Linked DNA regions of Homo sapiens. The protein of the gene in region 1 purifies or fractionates together with the protein of each later gene. This does not show direct contact. Each region holds a gene or a part of one and is shown on either strand. Other genes may lie near its edges.

Region 1 (4,132 bases):
TGGTACCACCTTCTATAATAATAATATAAAATAAAAACATCTGATGTCTGGGTTTTTTCATTTCCAAATTTGTAGACTCCCAGGAAAAGATTTTTTGCGGCCTTTTAAAAATCTGGTTCTTGGCAGTTTATCCATCTGTATCGATCCTGTGGGCTGTAAAGGAAAAGACAGACGCAGGTGATCAGAAGGTGGCCATTCCCATGCACCTTTCTACTGATGGGGCTCAGCAGTCACCCGGACCAGCAGCTGGCTGGGCCCAGGCGAGGCAGAGCACCCGCTGCTGAAAATCAACTGCTGCTGGAACGTAGAGGTCTGCTTTCATCCCCCGCCACTCAAGCCGCAGTTTCCAACGCGCTCACTCTAATTCTACCTGTGAAAGGGCCCCAGCCCCCCTTTTAGGGCACAAATCATGGGCTCTGAGTGAATCATGGGTCAAGGGCTAGTTGGCGTCTCTGCTCCCAGGTGGGCAGCTGAGGAAGGTGGAAGGTGGCTGGCAGCCCACACACTGAGCAGCCGCTTCGAGGTCCCCGCCCCCGTTAGCTGGTGACTGCGAAGGGACGGCTACTCACACTGCTTTGGTATCCGGAGGGCCTCACTGTCCAGCACCATCACCTGATGCAGGACGCCCCGGAACTGATAGAGCACTTTCAGGTTCTTCTCTTCCCCCACACACGGGTCATAAAAGCCAGGCAGCCCAGCCTGTAACAAACAAATTGCTACTCTCAATACTCCAGACGGTCTAAGACCAGCACTCCTCCTCACTACCACCGGAGGGGCAGTGTGCACAGGCTCTGACATTCCCTGGGGAGATGCAAACTTTGGGGCATGAAGAAAAAGAAACAAGAATTTGAAAAAGTTGCCAAGACTCGCTTCTTAATAAAGGCCCTATCCTCACACTAAGACAGGGCCACCAGATGACTTCTAGGGTGCCAGGAACTCTCTGGCCTGAGCTAACCTGCATTTTCATCCTTCTGTATGGTCCATGCCCCAGGCCCCAGAGGCAAGACTCACACATGTTACAAGTGACCTCATGATCTTTCTGGAATGAGGCAAAAATAAACAGAATCAAATGCCATGAAGGCAGGCGTGTGTTCTGTTTGCTGGTGTGACTGGCACACACCAGGGGCTCAGTAAATCCTTACTGAGTGGTGAAAGAAATGACTGAATGAAGAGAATAGCTCCAACGTGGGTACTACTCAGGAGCTGGGCAGCATCCCACACAGTAGATGCTGATGACGGCAAAGATCCCACTTTAAGGGGCCAGGCTGTCCTTGTCAGACTGAACCTATTCTTCACACCACTGTTTGTTTGTTTGTTTTGAGACAGGGTCTTGCTCTGTCACCCAGGCTGGAGTGCAGTGGCACAATCACAGCTCACTGTAGCCTCAACCTCCTGGGCTCAACCAATCCTTCCGCTTCAGCCTCCCGAACAGCTGGGACAACAGGTGTGTGTCACCATGCCCAGCTGATTTTTTCTCTTTTTTGTAGAGATAGGGTTTTGCCATGTTGCCTAGGCTGATCTTGAACTCCTGGGCTCAAGCAATCCGCCCACCTTGGCCTTCCAAAGTGCTAGGATTATAGGCCTGAGTCACCGCGCCCAGCCTGTTCAAATCTGTGAGCACATAGCATGTGGTGGCTGGTGCTGCTGTACCTTGGAGGCCTCCGTGAGGATGAGCTTCGAGTCCTTCACCAGGCACTGCAGGGGCACAGTCACGTCAATCACCTTCACCTTCTCGCTCTTCCTGCTCTTGTCATTGACAAACTTCCCGTACCAGGCATTGACGATGATGAGGCCTAAGGACAGACTCCGAGTAGAGGAAGGCCTCCTCCAGGCACCTCCTTGTGTGGCTTAGAGACCCCCAGCGCCCACCCTGGACCAAGAGAGGACACATGTTCTCACCCATTCTGGACTCTTCTGCCTCAATTATCCTTCGGACAGATTCCTGCATCAGCCGGACCTGCCAGAGAACAAGGATGACACAGTCAGGGCCCTGCCAGGCCTGTTCCACCTCTGGTGAGAGGGCCACAGGCAGGCAGTCTTGTCCACGTCAACATACTTGCTCAGGGCCTGGAAAGGAAGGGAGTGGGCACCCTGACAGCTCTGCTACCCGAGTGGCTCACTCTGAAACTCCTAGACCTAGGGCAGGCAGCTCTGGGTCAGAAGGTGAGAAGCACCTGAAACGGCATGACCCTCCGGTGGCCACCGGTGGGAGCTCCCTTTCTAGGGATCATTAATGCGTGGGTGGGATTTGTTGACCCAATAAAAAAACAATGCGTTGTCAGCTTTAAAAATAAAGAGATTTCACAGGAGAAGCTGGAATCCCAGCTCCTCTTGAGAAAGGACCTGTGTTCTCCTGTGGTGCCATTCTGCTGGGCATAGCTGTGCCGCCCCCTCAGACAGGCATGTGCTCGCCAGGCCGCGCACACGGCCCATGGCCACCTGGCAGTATGCTCGCCACATACCCAGGAAGCCTGCTCCCTCCTGCTCAGTAAAAGGCAGAACACTCAGAGGGAAGAAAAAGAGGCCAATACTCACCACTTTAAAAAAGCCCTTGTTAGGCCTTTGGAGGGTAATTATCTTCAGGGCAGGGACTGCAGAGCCCAGTGTCGCATCCCACAATAAAGACTAAGTGGAGAGCCAAGTTGTTGGAGAAGAGAAGTCTGACCTCTAAGGCCCTGAGACCAACATGTGGGGTGTGGAGTGTGTCCCCTACAGCCCTCGCTTGGGAACGGTGGGGCAGCACTCACAGCGGACTCCGCCTCTTGCTTCTTCTGCAGCACATCGGTGGCGGCGCTTTCCCTCTGCTTCTCCAATTCCCTTACGCGAGAGGAACACAAGCCCCACGTTAGCGCGGCGCTGCCCAGCTTCCAGCCAACACAGCCCCTCCCGTGCTGGACCCGAGCCCAGCAAACAGTCTGTGATCTTACTGGAGTTCAGTTGTAGAACTTTAAAAAATATTCCCACGACAGTCTCAGGCAAGTCTGTTAGTCACAGGCTGGCAGCTTTCATTTTATCCTTAGATGGCTCTGCCCCACCTCCTCACCAAGCTGACGGGACACCGACTGTCAGTCTCTTTGGAAAGAAGACCCCACCACAGGAGAATTTCAGGAGATCCCACCAACCTTGTGGGATTATTATTTTTTTAATTTTAATTTTAAGATAGAGATGGGGGTCTCACTATATTGCCCAGGCTAGTCTCGAACTCCTGGGCTCAAGTGATCCTACTGTCTCGGCCTCCCGAAGTGCTAGGGTTACAGGCGTGAGTTGTTAAATAACACTTTTGGTAGGAACAACTAATACCACTTTAGACACACAGATCCGCTTTCCTGTAACAAAGTATGGGCCTTGGGGTCAGCATATGCCTGTCCTCCCTTCTGAGAGAAGGCTGGGCCAGCACATGTCTTGTTCTAAGCCTCAAGCCTCCTAGGGAATTAGGATTCTGAGTCCAAAGGCCAGACGGGCCCAGAAGAGGAGATTCATTCCTTTATCTGAGATTCTCTAAGTGCAATGCTTTACTAAATGAGATATTATAAAGTAACAAATCTATACCAGCTCTCAGTTTTCTGTAGAGATGCTTGCACTAATAATTTAGGTTTCACGGCATGCCCCAATGGATTATCTAAGAAACTGCAAAAACGTTGTGTTTCTGTGACTTTCAAGACTCTAGTTAACGCAGGCCCCTCACATACGGATCCAGAACGCATTCCTCTTAAACTCAGCGCTGGGAAAGGAGAAAGGAAAACTTCTTCTTTCTTGAGGCCATGGTTTAGAGGATCAACACTTTTTTTTTTTTTTTTTTTGAGACCGAGTCTTGCTCTGTCACCCAGGCTGGAGTGCAATGGCGCAATCTAGGCTCACTGCAACATCCACCTCCCAGGTTCAAGCAATTCTCCTGTCTCAGCCTCCCAGGTAGCTGGGATTACAGGCACGTGCCACCACGCCCGGCTAATTTTTCTATTTTTTTAGTAGAGACAGGGTTTCACCATGTTGGCCAGACTGGTCCTGAACGCCTCACCTCGGGTAATCCACCTGCCTCAGCCTTCCAAAGTGCTGGGAATACAGGCGTGAGCCACCACGCCCAGCCGAGGCCCAACACTTCTATAAACTCCAGTCCTTTCTGAGAGTAAGATTT
Region 2 (3,500 bases), on another chromosome or scaffold:
TCAGGGAAATGCACTGGCCGAGGAGGGCACAGAAGATGGGCTGGGGGCCTCTTCTCTCATGTTTCTCCTTCCCTACAAACTTCGACTGTGGTGGACACCCAAGGCTGCCCCCCATCCCCACTGCAGCCCACATCGGGTCAGGCAGACAGACCCGTTTCCAGTAAATGCTGCCCCAGACACTTTGAAGCAAAGTGTTGGCTGATCGCCACGGTCAAGGCCCATCTGGTGGCTGCAGCCCCTCTTCCCCCACAGCCACGGGCCCCTCCATCCAGGCCCCTGGCTTGCTCAGAAGCTGGGCAGTAAGTGCGGGGCAGCTGGGAAGACACAGGAAAGCTGCAAGGGACACGGTGATGCCTACCTCTTTGCCTCCCAGAGTCGCAGAGTTCATCCTCCTGGAAAAGAGTATACACAAAGTCCGGCAGTGAGCTGGTGTGTCCAGACTCTCCACAACCAGCCCAGTCCCTGGCCACTGCCTGGTGGGCAGTCTCACCCAAGACCTAGGTTGCTATGCCACCAAGAATGAGCCACAGTGTGTTAGGACCAGCCTCCGGGGCTCAGGACAGGGCCTGTGTGTCCTGTTATTACTCCTAGTTGCCTTCAGAGATTCTGTGACAATCACCTTGCTAAAAAGCCATTCACCCACCCTCTCTCGGTTCCTCCTAAGCTGCAGAACTGCCTGCCCCATGACAAAGACCCACCCGTACAATTCTATGAATGGAGCCTGTTCACCAACCGTAGGGAGATAGAGTCTCACTTGGGGGATGCCAGTTCTGGCATTCTTCATAGAAAATGGGTTCCACCACGTTTCCCGAGCTTTTGTTTATATTTACCCAATGTCTTTTTTTTTTTTTTTTTTTTTTTTGAGACGGAGTCTCGCCCTGTCTCCCAGGCTGGAGTGCAATGATGCAATCTCAGCTCACTGCAACCTCTGCTTCCTGGGTTGAAGCAAATCCTCTGCCTCAGCCTCCCGAGTAGCTGGGACTATAGGCGCATGCCGCCACATCCAGCTAATTTTTGTATTTTCAGTAGAGACGGGGTTTCACCATATTGGCCAGGATGGTCTCAATCTTGTGACCTCGTGATCCACCCGCCTTGGCCTCCCAAAGTGCTGGGATTACAGGTGTGAGCCACCGCGCCAGGCCTATATTTACCCGATGTCTTAATAACAATCACGTATAGATAAAAACGATTCAACTGAGAATCTGAACAGAGCTGACTCCTTAGGCAGTGAACATACGGCTAAATTAACAATCAGCAGGTTTACAGAGATTCCTAATCTCAAGACCAGCAAAATAGGGATCAAGTGAGACTCTGAAAACCTGAAAAGCCACCATCTCCTGCCTGTTCCCTGCCTGTGTGACTCTAAGGACTTGGGGAAGGCCCTCCTTCCCACTCTGGACCTCCAGGCCCTACACCTCCAACTTGGATCAGAATCTACACTGGGGTGGCTGAGGCACCTCCCCAAGAGCTTGGGGTGGTCCCGGCTATGAACTGGCCCCACGTGCTGCCTGCCTGTGCCTTGTTGTGAGGATGGAAGGATGAGGACACCAGTCAGCGGCACCCGGCACGGAGCTGGCGGCAAATGAGCCTCCAGCCTGTGCTTGGAGGCTTCAGCCCACAGTCCCTGCACTTACTGGCCTAGAGACCAGGGAGAGGAACTGGGAGCTTTTTTCAGAAAAGGAATGTTTGTTGTAAGTTGAAAACTTTTTTTTTTTTTTTGAGACGGAGTCTCCCTCTGTCGCCCAGGCTGGGGTGCAGTGATGCAACGTCAGCTCACTGCAACCTCCACCTCCCAGGTTCAAGTGATCCTCCTCCCTCAGCCTCCCAAGTAGCTGCTACTACAGGCAAGTGCCACCACTCCTGGCTAATTTTTGTATTTTTAATCGAGACGGGGTTTCACCATGTTGGCCAGGCTGGTCTCCAACTCTCGACCTCAAGTGATCCACCCACCTGAGCCTCCCTAAGTGCTAGGATTACAGGTGTGAGCCACCGTGCCGGCTAAGGTGGAAAACTTTTAGAAATCTAGCTAAAAGTCAGGGTCCTGAATCCACTCAGAGGTAGTCAAATCTACCATGGCAGCTGCTCCTGCCCCTTTGTGAGGAAGGGTGATTAAAGAAAGAAGAAATCCCACACTAGAGGCAAAAGGGCTGCCTGGTGGACTTACACCCTTGAATTCTTCATCTCCTGAGCGGAAGTCACCAGCTGCGTCATCTGCCAGACACAAAGAAAGGAAAAGTCAGTCCCCGGAGAACGGTCCCATCCGGTTTCCGCCCTCCCAAGCTCGCCATCCAGGGTGAGTCTGCCCTGACCACAGTGGGGTTGAAACATGCCACCTGCGAGTGTCCACGACACAGATGGGGCAAGCAGAGCCCCCAGCAGGCAGCCGACCCATCCTACATCTGTCTGGCCCACCTGGCCCCCAGGACATACCATTTTCGGAGAAATCTCCTTCACTGTCAACCCGGGCCAGTTTGGTGTCTGGCTCCTCGTAAAGTTGGAACTGCTTCCGTTTCCTGCCCGTGCCATCTGGTCCGAAGCGGTCAAACCCTCTCCTCTTGGGCTACAGACAACAAGCACACCCCATGAGCTACTTACGAGGGCCATGAAGATGCCCCACAGAAAAGAACAAGGAGGTTGTAGGATCAGACAACACAGGCACAAAAGGTCTTTTCAAAAAGCAAAGAGACAACATAATTTGAAACTAAAAAGAAAATCATGCTGAGTGAAAAGAAGCCAGGAACAAAAGGCCACACGTTTCGCGACTCCATTTGTGCAAAATGTCTAGAACACACAAATCCAGAGACCAGTGGTGGTTGTCGGGGGCTGGTGGGGGCGGGGAAGAGACAGGGGTGACTAATGAGAAGAAGTTTCTCTTCTGGTTGACATAAATGCTAAGATTAGACTGTGATGGTGGGGATGGTTGCACAATCCTGTAAATTAACTAAAAGTCGAACTGCGCACTTAAAAACATTTAAGTGAATGTTGAGATGGGGAAATTTTACCTCAATAAAGCTGCTAAAAAGAGAAGCGAAGGCGGCCGGAAGGAACCTTGCGAGGGCTTACCCGATCCCGATCCCGCATCCGAGGCTGCGAGCGGCCACATCCGTAGGGCATGGTGCTGTCATAGCCGCCCGCCCCCTGCATGCCCATCACGCCGTAGTCGGGAGCCATGGACTGGGAGAAGAGGGACGGAGGTGGCCGGCTGGGGGAGGGCCCTCCCAGGCCCCGTCCACCCACGTAGTTCAGCTCGTTCCAGGGCGTGGACAGGGGCTCAGAGGACGCAGCGGGGGGCACGAAGGGGTCGCTGCGCATGAAGGTGCCAGGGTTGCTCCGGTCCTGGAAGCGGCCCTGGCCCCGGCCCCGCATGAAGCCATCAAGGGAGCCCCGCTCCCGGGCTGGGTCTCGGCATTCACTGTACTGCCCCCCAAAGCTGCCATTGCGGTCGGACCCCAGGTCGAACTCATAGTCGTAGCTGTAGCTGGGGCGGTAGGGGTTGTGCT
Region 3 (3,500 bases), on another chromosome or scaffold:
AATGCTAATGTCTAGAACTATATCCTAAGGGACTGCAGTGCAAAGATAGGAAATACTAGGAAAACTACCCTGTGGGCAAAAAGCCAGAGCTACAAGGTGCTGGTGTAGAACTATTTTGTTTGAGGCCACAACTTTCCCATCCTGGGTTTATGGAGTTCCCTTCTCAAAATGTAAGAATAAATCTCATGGATGTGACCTACGACTGATTAAAGGTGTATTTTACCTAGCTGGGGTGGTTCTTAAAAATCAAGTTTTGCCAAATATATGTAATTCAACATAGGATGAATAATGTTTTATCACCACCAACGGCTTCTAGAGAAGTGAGATCTGTGACACATAAATTTTTATAATATGTAAATACCCCGCAACGTGACATAGGCATATTTCAACATTTATCGCCAACATTTCCATCCTGTACTCTGGTCAATTTTGAGTATGTCACACTCACACCATGGACCAGAATCTTTATTTCTAAGTGTAGCGTCTTTTGTTTATTTGGATATGACCTTTTTGTGCTAGAAACACGTTTCTAAGAAAGCACTGGCACGCGCACCCTTGGGTTTGTGGGAAACAATTCAAGAAGCCATGCTCCAAAATAAGTAAGTTGGATCTGATTCTCTATAGCAAGCTTAGCTCCTTTTCCCACTGCCTGTTGCTTCAAAGCCATTCCTATTGTAGAGCAGATGCTGACAAGGCAACATCACACACATACTTGCCTCAAAAAAGAGAGTTGCATTCGAGGGAATTTTAGGGAGACTGCCAGCCGAGCCATATGCATATTCTGGTTTGCACAGTAAATGGCATATCTCTCCTTTCTTCATGGTAGCCACCCCAATGTCCCATGCCTTGATGACTTGGCCTAAGGGAAAGGAAAAGGTAGTTGAAAGCTATAAGCCCTATTTAAAAAGATTTAACTTTCATAAAACCAAAGTTCTAATTTCCAGTTTTTCATACTACATACTCAGCTAGAAAGTATGGGCTACAAGATGACAGAGTGCTACATACAAATAAATAAATTATTTTTTTTGAAGGCTATCACAAAAGATTCCCTGTTGATCGGCCCAGCACTTTGGGAGGCTGAGGTGGGAGGACTGCTTGAGTCCAGGAATTTGACACCAGCCTGGGCAACACAGCAAGACCTCATCTCTAAAAAAAAAAAAAAAACACCCCAAAGAACCAAAGAACACAGCTGGGTATGGTGCACACCTGTAGTCCCAGCTACTCCGGAGGCTGTGGTGGGAGGACAGCTTAAGCCTGGGAGCCCAGGAGATTGAGGCTTCAGTGAGTCATGATTATGCCACTGCACTCTAGCCTGGGTGACAGAGTGAGACCCTGTCTCAAAAAGGATTCCCTGCTGAAAGGGATGAAAGTAATATAAATTCCTAAACTACTCAAAAATTAAGTCTTTGAAAACTGGTGGTAACATTATCCATGAAATATGGCTATGTTGCAATTGTTGCCTAATTTATCATTTCAACTATAATAAGCGCAAATTTTCTAGGCAGAGATAGAACAAAAATAGTATTGAAAAATAGAGTGTGTCCTAAGGAAGCTTATAATTTAGTTGGGTAGACAAAAAAAACAACAAAACAAGAAGTAACCAGAACAGGATAAATTGCATAAAAGGGTCCATGAAACACATTTCTTCTCAAAATTTAGAATCAGAAAAATGTTCCTTTAAACAAAAACATATGTGTCTTTTTGTCAAACCACAACTACAGAACTTAAAATATTTTATTTTTTGCCTACTTCCAGGAAACTAAGTTAAATTTACTGCTCAATTGTAGAACTATATTAGGCTATATAATTGTAATCTCAATGTTTATAGTTCCTATGATGTGCATCATTATCTTACTGTAAGCAGTATCAAGTCCTTTCGGAAACAATAGAAAATTTAGGCCATTTAAAAGGCTAAATTACATTTTGGTGGGGCATGGTGGCTCACGCCTGTAATCCCAGAACTTTGGGAGGCCAAGACAGGCGGATCACTTGAGGCCAGGAATTCAAGCCTGGCCAACATGGTGAAACCCCGTCTCTACTAAAAATACAAAAATTAGCCAGGCATGGTAGTGCGTGCCTGTAATCCCAGCTACTTAGGAGGCTGAGGCAGGAGAATTGCTTGAACCTGGGAGGCGGAGGTTGCAGTGAGTAGAGATCATGCCACTGCACTCCAGCCTGGGCGACACAGCAAGACTCTGTCTCCAAAAAAAAAAAAAAAAAGGCTAAATGACAAATGAGGTACTCTGTCAATCAGAAATATTAAGTATCTGGGGGCTGGGCACGTTGGCTCGCGCCTGTAATCCCAGCTGTAATCCCAGCACTTTGGGAGGCCAAGGCGGGCAGATCCCTTGAGCTTAGGAGTTTGAGACCAGCCCAGGCAACATGGTGAAACCCCATCTCCACAAAAAAATATATTTAAAAAATGAGCCAGGCGTGGTGGTGCTTGCCAGCTACTCAGCAGGCTGAGGAGAGAGGACTACTTGAGTCCAGGAGGTCAAGGCTGCAGTGAGCTGAGATCATGCCACTGCACTCCAGCCTGGGCAGCAGAGTGGAGACCCTGTCCTGTCTCAAAAAACAAAAACAAAAATGTAAGTATTCAAAAGTAGGATCAGATAAGAGATGAACCCCAGAGGAAGTGAATTTGAAGTGAGCTGGTGGTAGGATATTAGGACAAGGGAAACCCTACATAACAGTATGTAAGCAGGGATAGATAAACCATTTTTTATTCATGACTTTAGCTTAATCTTCATTAAATATTACAACTTTTCAAAATGTCAGCTACATTTATTTCAGTTAAAAATATATGTAAGTGGCCAGGAATAGTGGCTCATACCTCTCATCTCAGCATTTTGGAAGGCCAAAGCAGGAGCATCCACTTGAGCCCAAGAGTTTTAAGACCGGCCAGGGCAACATAGTGAAACTCCATCTCTACAAAAATTTAAAAAATTAGTGCGGCATGGTGGCATATGCTTGTAGCTCCAGCTACTTTGGAGGTTAAGACAGGAGAAGAGCTTGAGCCTAGGAGTAAGAGGCTACAGTGAGCAATGATTATGTCACTGCACTCCAGACTAGGTGACAGAGCGAGACCCTGTCTCTTAAAAAAAAAAAAAAATCAAGTAATACATGCCTATTATTAAAACACCCATGAAAGAGATGGAAAGTGAAAGCTGAAAGGCCATCCATCTGCTCCTTATAAGTAACTGTTACGTTTCTTTGGTATCCTACTGTGTGCTGTCACTTTTTAAAAAAATTTAAAATACAAATGACAGCAAACTAGACATTCAGTTCTAAACTACTTTTTCATTTATTATATATCTTCATCCTCTTTCTCCATCAGTAGAAAGGAGGATGTACATTTTAGAGGTCAAAAATGCAGCATACTCTAACTTCAGAATACCTGGATTTGAATACCAAGTTTGCCCTTTACTATCTGTGTAAACTTGTGCAAGTTATTTAATCTCTGTGCTTAGTCTCCTCACCTGCAAAATGTAAATAATAAC
Region 4 (3,500 bases), on another chromosome or scaffold:
GATGATCCAATATTACACAATTATCTGTGGGACTAACTCTTTTTTTTTTGAAATAGAGTCTTGGTCTGCTACCCAGGCTGGAATGCAGTGACATGATCTTGGCTCATTGTAACCTCCACCTCCTGGGTTCAAGCAATTCTCCTATCTCAGCTTCTTGAGTAGCTGGGATTACAGGTGTGTGCCATTACGCCCAGCTAACTCTTTAGAAGGTACTATTACTATAACATTTGAGAGACTAACATCTTTCCCACAGACAATGGGAGGTAGGAAGTTATTGACAGTGTTTTTGGAAAAAGCACAAACAAATTGTTCTTGGAACAGGAACCAAAGCTATTAATATGGTAAGCCATTCTCCAAAAAACTGTAACCAAGTAGTATCCTCGAAAACAGAATTATTAATAGGACTTTGCCAGATTCTGTTAAAGGTGATCTAAACAAAATACAGAGATACCGGAAGTACGGTAGTCAGGAATGGGAGCAAATTAACATAGATTCGGTATATATATTAAATGCCAGTCTCCTTCCATGTCATCACATTTTATCTTCATTACACCTCTGTAAGACAGAATTAATTTCTGTGTTTAGAGATGAAAGACTAAGGCTCAGAGAGATAAAGTATATTAGTGCCCAAGATGACACAGGTAGTCAGGGTGAATCAGGAATTTAAATCTGGTTTAATCTAAAGTTTTATTTTTATTTTTAGTTTTTTATTCTTTCTACTCTATCATACTGTCTTTTTCATATGAAAAAGGTCAGGAACCTGGAAACCTAGATACCCTTGGATACTCTTTTACTCTATTTCTCAACCGAGCTCTCTGCCCACTGAATGGCACCAGGAGTCCCACCTGCCTGGAATGCCTGTTTCTAGACACACTTCATAATTTCCTGAGACCTGCTCACTCACGTTAAGACGCTTGCTGGCATCATCTGGGACTCGGGTGCTGCCTCTATCAAGGACTGCCAGGTATTTGTGGAGTTAGGGATCACAAAGCCAAACTCGAAGAACCATTCTGAAGGAAGAAGGAAAAGCCGGGGTGAGCAGGTGCCCCAGTATAAAGTTTAAGGGCTCTTTGTCTCCCTCTCTAGAGTGAGCCTCTTCCTACCCTGAGAACCACCAAAGGAAGCTATCAGCAACCTCTCAGACCAGGGGCGTAAAAAAGACAGGGAAGCCTGCTCAGGTTGTCCTCTGAACCACACCAAAGGCTTGCTTCTCATGCTTTGAGGTCTAAAGGACTAGGACCAGCGAGCAGGACACAATATAAGCAGCATTTTCTTAGAGGTAGGCTAGATGTGAACTATATATAGATACATAGTTAAATTCACTTGGAATTAGCTTGAAGGGGCTTATGTGCCCTTTACACTGCATGGTGAGAATTCAATGCAGAGTGGCCTTGCCAGTCAAATCTGTATGATACTGTATGTAGAGCACTGTACTAGGCCCTGCTCATAGCAGCTTCCTCCATGATCATATCACAATACAACGTCAGTGCCTAAACCAGGCACCACCATCCACGCTCCCAGTGTCAGAGACCTCAAAGCCCCTTGTAGTGGCTAGCTTTGTTTTGGTTTGTTTCACTGGGGATTCACAGTCTTGCAGAGTGTAGGAATCCTACCACAAACTGAGTTGTAAAAGGAATGTTATCAAAGCACTGCTTTAGTTCACTGGGTATTGTTGCCTTTTGTCCTGGTCGCCCTAAGCCCTGATTTCAGGCATGTAGGCAGCAGAATACCTTCTAGGCATTGCCCTTTGAAGTAAACTTTTTGTTCCAGGCGGAATTTTTCCATTTGTTCTGTCGAAGAAAAATTAAGTTCTCGAGACACTGCCTTGCACTTGAGGATTTTCTTGGGAACACGGGCTGGTAAGAGAAAAACAAATGTTGAAGCCTTTCTAAATGAAAACCACAGGACTATGATGCTTCAAATTTCTGGGAGCTTCTTACAGCTGATTTAGAGAACACTTTCTTACAGCTGATTTAGAGAACACTTTCTTACATTTTGGATAATGCCTTGGTAAGTGCATTACACTTTGTGTGGCTGAAAGCAGAGGTCTCTAATTGGTCACCCGTATCTGAAAGATATTAGATCTTCAAGGAACACCAGGTTTTGTGCATCTAAGGGCCTCATCTAACTACTCTCATCAGGAAGGGGGCTGCATGGGTACCTTCTCTCTACTCTGTTCTGGTGATTTTAACCCCTTCCTTCTTCTTTACTTCAGGGAGATAAAAATGCAAATTTTCTTTTGGAGAAAAAGTTGAGATCTTAGTTTCTATCTTTGGGTATGTTCTAATGGTAAAATATCAGCACAAAATGGGTTTTGGGAAGTGAGAGAAAGAACTGTTAAGAAAGTAACTGGCTGGGCGTGGTGGCTCACACCTGTAATCCCAGCACTTTGGGAGGCTGAGGCGGGCAGATCACTTGATGTCCGGAGTTCGAGACCAGGATGGCCAACATGGTGAAACCCCATCTCTACTCAAAATACAAAAATTAGCCAGATGTGGTGGCGCACGCCTGTAGTCCCAGCTACTCGGGAGGCTGAGGCATGAAAATCGCTGGAACCTGGGAAGCAGAGGTTGCAGTGAGCCAAGATCACACCACTGCATTCCATCCAGCCTGGGTGATAGAGCAAGACTGTGTCTCAAAAAAAAAAAAAAAAAAAAAAAAAGAAAGTAACTGAAACTGTCAACAACACATGGATTAACATGCTGTGTCTTCAGGGGCTCACCCGCCTATTAGGTATGTGTTAACTTAGCTCTCTTATGCTCAGGTGCTAGTCTGGCATTGGTCACAGCCCTGTGTAGATAAAGGGTTGGAAAGTACCTTCATGCTCCACACCAGGGACAGACAGGTCTTCTGTTCCTTGCCAGAGTATCTTCCCTGTCTCAGCATCCCGAAGGTTCATCCAATTTCTGATCAAATATGACTAAGGAAAAATAAGGCACTGAAAGTGACTCCCACTTTGTATTCTAGGTGTCTCATGTTTACTCCCACCAACTCTTGTTTACTTTTTAAAAAGTTTGTCAAACTGCTCATTGCCATGGAAGCACATAAGAATGTGAGGAGAGTCAAAAAGACATCTAAAGGAAGAAGCAGAAACCTAGAGAAGTTACTTTTATCTATGAGAATCCTAAGACTGCACACACCTAGAGACTGCAAGAAAGGGACAGAAAACGAATAGTGCAAAATTTAAAATTTACCAACAGGATCTGACCAACCAAGATAAAATACCTAAAGAAACAAATATCAGATGTACCCCAAGGAAACAACTCATGAAGATCACTCTATAGTGAATGCCACAGTCCATAAACTTCACCCACAAGCACAGAACTCTCAAATTGCTTTGTAGTGGCCCCCTCTGTTTTTTTTTTTTGAAACAGAGTCTCACTCTGTCACACAGGCTGGAATGCAGTGGCACAATCTCGGCTCACTACAACCTTCATCTCCTTGGTTCAAGCAATTCTTGTGCCTCAGCCTCCTGAGTAGCTGGAATTATAGGAGCACGT

The links. Proteins that work in one complex are often made in the same cells at the same time.
Region 2: the proteins of DNAJC11 (region 1) and AKAP8 purify together in Homo sapiens (affinity purification with mass spectrometry, with the first as the bait; one large-scale study listed by BioGRID). This does not show direct contact.
Region 3: the proteins of DNAJC11 (region 1) and FKBP5 purify together in Homo sapiens (affinity purification with mass spectrometry; 2 studies listed by BioGRID and IntAct, with this or other methods). This does not show direct contact.
Region 4: the proteins of DNAJC11 (region 1) and PDE6D purify together in Homo sapiens (affinity purification with mass spectrometry; one large-scale study listed by BioGRID and IntAct). This does not show direct contact.

Annotation. Positions count from the first base shown.
Region 1 is NC_000001.11:6,635,548-6,639,679, forward strand, and holds part of DNAJC11 (dnaJ homolog subfamily C member 11), read right to left. Parts: intron 2,818-4,132; coding exon 2,748-2,817; intron 1,958-2,747; coding exon 1,900-1,957; intron 1,794-1,899; coding exon 1,651-1,793; intron 700-1,650; coding exon 570-699; intron 154-569; coding exon 128-153; 3' UTR 1-127.
Region 2 is NC_000019.10:15,369,788-15,373,287, forward strand, and holds part of AKAP8 (A-kinase anchor protein 8), read right to left. Parts: coding exon 3,064-3,500; intron 2,561-3,063; coding exon 2,431-2,560; intron 2,212-2,430; coding exon 2,165-2,211; intron 393-2,164; coding exon 359-392; intron 1-358. UniProt on the Homo sapiens protein: Anchoring protein that mediates the subcellular compartmentation of cAMP-dependent protein kinase (PKA type II).
Region 3 is NC_000006.12:35,619,416-35,622,915, forward strand, and holds part of FKBP5 (peptidyl-prolyl cis-trans isomerase FKBP5), read right to left. Parts: intron 860-3,500; coding exon 717-859; intron 1-716. UniProt on the Homo sapiens protein: Immunophilin protein with PPIase and co-chaperone activities. Component of unligated steroid receptors heterocomplexes through interaction with heat-shock protein 90 (HSP90).
Region 4 is NC_000002.12:231,736,283-231,739,782, forward strand, and holds part of PDE6D (retinal rod rhodopsin-sensitive cGMP 3',5'-cyclic phosphodiesterase subunit delta), read right to left. Parts: intron 2,921-3,500; coding exon of another isoform or gene 2,907-2,920; coding exon 2,818-2,906; intron 1,857-2,817; coding exon 1,731-1,856; intron 1,011-1,730; coding exon 905-1,010; intron 1-904. UniProt on the Homo sapiens protein: Promotes the release of prenylated target proteins from cellular membranes. Modulates the activity of prenylated or palmitoylated Ras family members by regulating their subcellular location.